Linked DNA regions of Homo sapiens: region 2 is linked to region 1. Evidence: fine-mapped expression QTL. A gene starts in region 1. The other region holds a variant in brackets. All regions are shown on one strand. Distances are between the middles of the regions. Region 1 holds the start of SEC23IP (SEC23 interacting protein). Region 2 overlaps SEC23IP (SEC23 interacting protein).

The links. PIP is the estimated chance that this variant, and not a neighbour inherited with it, causes the effect. A credible set is the group of variants that fine-mapping cannot tell apart.
Region 2: its variant is the best candidate, but not a certain one, in a credible set for the expression of SEC23IP in regulatory T cells (Bossini-Castillo 2019, PIP 0.57).

What each region holds. Positions count from the first base shown.
Region 1 is chr10:119,891,273-119,894,194 of GRCh38, reverse strand. It overlaps SEC23IP (SEC23 interacting protein), which reads right to left and starts at 1,465. Exons shown (of 19, transcript NM_007190.4): 1 at 1,250-1,465. The coding sequence starts at 1,412. RefSeq lists enhancers at 1,217-1,727, 1,728-2,238, 2,239-2,750.
Region 2 is chr10:119,940,946-119,943,867 of GRCh38, reverse strand. It overlaps SEC23IP (SEC23 interacting protein), which reads right to left. Exons shown (of 19, transcript NM_007190.4): 19 at 1-2,922. Among named protein-coding and RNA genes, the nearest start is that of MIR4682, 16 kb to the left of the region's middle. The variant A/C (reference allele first, on the strand shown) is at 1,606.

The sequences.
Region 1 (2,922 bases):
GAGAGGCAGGTGTGTTTATTTCACAAACATTAAATCACACTGTCTGGCACGCACTATACTTAGCGCTTTGCAAAAATTAAAGCATTTCTAATTACAATTCTGTGAGGCTACACATACATAGAAACTGAAGCACAGAGAGGTAAAGTAAAATGCCTACAGTCACACAGCAAGTTACTGGCAGGGCAAGGACTGGAATACAGACAGTCTGTGCTCTTAAACACTATGCTCTGGGCAATGCTACATAATCATCAAAAAGCAATCTCCCTGGACAATAATACAAATATGAAAAAAGAGCTAGGAGTGCACATAGGAGTGGGGGCCTAAGAGAACAAGAAACAGCTTCTTGGAAGAAGTGATGTATTGTCTTGAAAGATGAGGAATGGGTGGGGGGTTAAACCTGTAATCCCAGCACTTTGGGAGGCCAGGGCAGGCGGATCACTTGAGGTCAGGAGATTGAGACCATCCTGGCCAACATGGTGGAACCCTGTCTCTACTACAAATACAAAAATTAGCCAGGCATGGTGGCAGACGCCTGTAGTCCCAGCTACTCGGGAGGCTGAGGCAGGAGAATCACTTGAACCTGGAAGGTGGAGGCTGCAGTGAGCCGAGATCGCGCCACTGCATTCCAGCCTGGGCGACAGAGCAAGACTCCGTCTCAAAAAAAAAAAAAAAAAAAAAAAGATAAGGAATGCATTGTATATGTCTACTTCACAAATATTACAGGCTTCTAGAAGAGGGGCACAGTCCATCTTATAAGATATCTTACTGTAACCTAGAAGATATTGTACTGTATCACAACAATCTCCTAGTAGGAGACAGTGTACCGTATCCTAGGAGAGGGGCACAGTCCATCCTAGGAGGTATCTTACCGTATCCTAGGAGTCTCCTAGTGGGAGACAGACTACTGTACCCTAGGAGAGGGCCACTGTTTAATTTATTTGCATTTCCTGCCAGCACCTGGCGTACCAACAACGGGTATTCAGCAAAGATTTGCGGAATGCCAGGGTACGAATGAATGTCCAGCACTCTGGACAACTCGGAACAGGGGGTTTCCGTGAAGAGCAAGTCTCATCACCTGCCACCTCCAAGATCCCAAAGCCCCCGACCCACTCAAACCTGGCCAGTAATGATCCTGGCAAGCTATCCAGAGGGTAGCTCGAGGCAGAAGGAAAAACTCCCGTCTGACCTTTGTCATTGCACGTCCCCCGCCCGCCTCCCACCACACACGGGGCCGCCCTCCCCTTATTACCTCCCGGTAAGAGCAGGGAGGCCGGAGAAGCGGAGGCCTGGGTGACTGGGATGAAGGGCACATTGAAGCTGAACTCCGTGGCCGAGGAGGAGAAAAGTAAGTTAGTGCCCGATGAGGAAGTGGAGGCGCCGCCGCTGCCACCGTTAGGTTTTCTCTCGGCCATGGCTGCGGCCCACCGTCCGATACACGTCTCCGGGTACCCGGTACCACACCACTGACCGGAAACCGATCACGCTCCTGGCCAGCGCACTTCCGCACTTGCGCACAGGAGCCGAAATTACGGGTAGCTAGTCAGCCGCCCTCTCCCTTCCCCTACACGGCGACGCCAGATATCAACATGGCGACACTGTCTTCACGCCCGCGTCTAGCACGTGACACCCTCGGAGGCGGAGGCCGGGCGGGAGGATGGGGACGTGGTCCCCGCAGGTTCTGGATAGACGTGCGAATTGAGACGCAATTGACCCTGAAAGTCACAGGTTGTGGCGGGTATCTATGGGCTTCCTAAAGGTACCGTCAGGATGGCTCTCCTGACAAAGATTTTGGAGGAACAGCGGAATCCTGCTGGACGCTACCGGAAGGAGGAAGGGAGGAAGAGCGTTGTGCGGGAATGGGAATTCGCATGCTAGGCGGAACCAAACACCCTCTCCAAAACCCACTTGTCTTTCTGGATGGAACCGAACATTGTGGTTGACCCAGAAATAGAAGTGGTAAAACATTTTTTAAGTGTTTAATCCATAGGGAGAAAAAAATATTTCGTTTTATTTTTGTTGTTTTTTGTTTTGCATTTGTTTTTTGTTTTTTTGGTTGGTTTTGTTTTTTGTTTTGAGACAAGTCTGCTGTGTCGCCCAGGCTGGAGTGCAGCGGTGCAGTCTGGGCTCATTGCAATCTCCGCCTCCCGGGTTCAAGCGATTCTCCTGCCTCAGCCTCCGAGTAGCTGGGACTACAGGCGTCCGCCACCACGCCTGGCTAATTTTTTGTATTTTTAGTAAAGACGAGGTTTCACCGGGTTGGCCAGGATGGTCTCAATCTCCTGACCTCGTGATCTGCCCGCCTTGGCCTCCCAAACTGCTGGGATTATAGGCATGAACCACCACGCCTGGCCAAAAAAAATATTTAAAAGAGAAATCAAACCAGACGCCATGGCGCAGGCCTGCAATCCCAGCACTTTGTGAGGCAGAGCGGGAGGATAGCTTGAGCCCAGAAGGTTGAGACCAACCTGGCCAACATGGTGAAACCCCGTCTCTACTAAAAATACAAAAATTAGCCGGGCTTGGTGGCATAGCACCTATATTGCCAGCTACTCAGGAGGCTGAGGCGGGAATATTGCTTGAGGCCAAATTAACCCTGATCTTGCCACTCACTGTGCAGCGAGACCCTGTCTCCTTAAAAAAAAAAAAAAGAAAAAAAAAGAAACCAGGGCATTGAAATTAGAGATCTGACATTTTAGATAGCTTTCTATATCCACAGTAAGCTGACTTACTTCAATCCAGGAGGTACTGTGGATAACTTGGACATAATTGTCATCTTTCATAGTTAGAGATTTTGAAGGAAAATATAACTTAAGCCATATTTCAGCTTCTTGGAGGTTGGGAGAGGAGATACCAAAAGAACGCTCAAAATAATGAAACTCTGCTCAGCTGTTTACACATATATAGAACCTAAGTTTATTAATT
Region 2 (2,922 bases), 50 kb before region 1:
TCCACTAACGAATATGTAGCATTGCCCACTATCTCACAGATGTGTCCTCAATAACCCCTGGCCTGTTTTATGTGTCATCATAAAATTTCATATATTGAAATATGTGAAACTCATTTCACTTAATCTGAAGCTGAAAGAAGTATTAAAGAGCTGGAATTATTTCCCAAACTCCCACTGGTGTTAACAACATGACATTATTTTCAGTGTTCTCTGGGACCAATACATTCGGGAAATCTGCAAGAGTTGCTGTTTTATTTTTTATTCATTTATTTTTTTTTGAGACAGAGTCTCGCTCTGTCACTCAGGCTAGAGTGCAGTGGCGAGATCCCAACTCACTGCAACCTCCACCTCCTGGGTTCAAGCAATTCTCCTGCCTCAGCCTCCTGTAGCTGGGACTACAGGCACATGCCACCATGCCCAGCTAATTTTTTTTATTTTTAGTAGAGATGGGGTTAACCCCCTGAGGAGTATTATAGAAATGTCATGAAGACAGGTTAGCTGACAGTCTGTCCCGTGCACCGCAGGGACAGTCAACAGCAGGAACACAATGTCAGCACCCCAGCTCATAGAGGAACTGAATTCTATCCACTCTCCTCTGAGGACCCAGCCCTGGGAAACTGACTCAAACTAAGCTGGAATGCCAACTTATTAAGTTACAATGAGAACTATAACTTGGAGGAAAACCAAAACACTCAGTGTCTGCAGTTCAAGTTTCCACCAGAAAGCTGCTTGGTAAACACTAAAGTACAGCATTAAGATAGTTAGATGCCTCAAGTCATAAAAACCTGAAACAATGGTACTATAAATACCAATCATCCTAGGTTTTCTGGGATAATCTTCAGTACTCTTATCATGAGACCAAATGCTGTGAGTTACTATTTCAAATACATGATCATCCCTGCCAAGATAGCGGCATCTCCTCCTTTTCATGTACAGGGTTCTATATAGATCACACCTTTCCAATAACATACTTACCTCAAAAATCACTCGAATCTGTGCAGTTTCCTTGTCTTATACTGTGGTTTTGAGAAAACATGCTTGTCTGGTTGGATTCAAGAAGCACGCGTGTCCAGCAGACTTAGAAAGCAGGTTCCTCTTGTCATACAGCACGTTAACATAGCTGACGAGGCCTGGGTGTCTTCATCAGTACTGTGATGACTCTTTCACCTTTGACTTCAGATGCTGGCGCTTTTTACTTTTTGTGCCAAACTCTACACATGAAACACTTTTGGAATAACTACAGACATGACTTTCTTTATCTGGGGAAAAGGAGGGCATTAAACCAGATTAGGGGCTGGGAGGGGAGGTTGTCAGGGGATGAGCTGCTCCTGAGGAAGAGGCAGAGATCAAGCTTCACTCAGCAGCTGGATTCTCACCTAGTTTATAGACTGAAATCCTGCAAGGTGGTTACAACAGTGAACAATATGTTCATACATAAAGACTCTACCCTCAGGGGATCTACTGTTTTTTGGTTTTTAAGAGACTGAATAGTAATACATACATACATACATATGTGTGTGTGTATATATATATATGTATGTATGAGTATATATATCCACAGGCAGAGTCACTCAAAAATTCTATTTTCTGTGTACTCAAGTATTA[A/C]AATGAAAGGGCAAGACTGCTGCCACTCAGCTGCCACATGCTTCTTCTACGAACCCTGGTCCTTCTCTGCCCATTACTCAGAAGACAGGCTGAATGACACAAACAAAAATCAGATGTAAGTTGAAAAATCAAATTGGATTTTATTGAAATGTATATAAATAACCCTCATTTTTCTTTATTTCATCAGTATTGGGAAATTAAGTGAAAAGTAATTAAAAAGTAGTAGTCCTGAGAGAGAGAAATGAAGGCTGAAAGGGAATCAAGAAAACCATATTCCATCCCAGATCTGCCACTACCCAGTCTGGGAAAGGCATTTATTGTCCTGGCCTCAGCTGTAGAATGAGGTGGCTGAAATCTATGTTGTCTGGAGTCAATTACAGCTCTACAATCTTGCTGTTCTAATTCTACCATTAGGAGCCAATGCTAACGTTACATACTGACCATATAAGCAGGTACTCAAAATGAAAAGGGAATAAACACTGAGTTCATGGGGACACTTTTAAGGAAGACAAGAGAAATACATAAGTTTGCTGCTTAAAAAATGCATTAATGTTACTGCTTTATTCACACTAATTAGAATACATACACAAAAAATGTGTATCATATATCACTTTCAAAAATTTCCATGTTCCATGAGAACTATGTAAACAATGCAAAATGTTTCCACTACGTAACAAAAGAAAATCAGCATTCCCACATAGTATTAGGAAAATATTTGGATAATCTGAATTTATAGTAAAACAAAGTGATCTGAATTTGTAGTAAAACAAAGTGAAATATTACAAAGCAGTCTTGTCATGAAGTAGCCTTATATAACTCAGAAGCAACACATTTCATACTTTCAAACACTTTGGTATAAGTGAAATTAATAGAAAACAAAAAGAAGAAGAAAAAAACCTCTACTTTGGTTTTCACATTATTGGAACTTCAGCAACAAGGCAAGTGCACAGCTACCTTGGATGACAAAATGGAAAACCTCTCATCTGCTTGCTTCTCCTCCTGGAAATGGACGTGCTAGGAGAGCGCTTCCCAGGACTTCTTGAAAATAAGGTGCATCTCACTTCTTTCCACAATCAGGCTCTCAGCAATCGTTTGAGGGATTTATAAAACCTCAGATTCAGTTGGGATATGAGTGATCTTGATTATTTCCTCTTAACAAATATAAATGACCTTGCATTAAGGCAGCTCAGAAGTACAATTCACATTTTAAGTAGAACATAAATCTCTTAAAAATCATATTACTATAGTTTCTCAACAAGTTCATACTTGAATAAAAAGAACATACTGCATTAATAAAAAGAAAAATCCAAGTTTAAT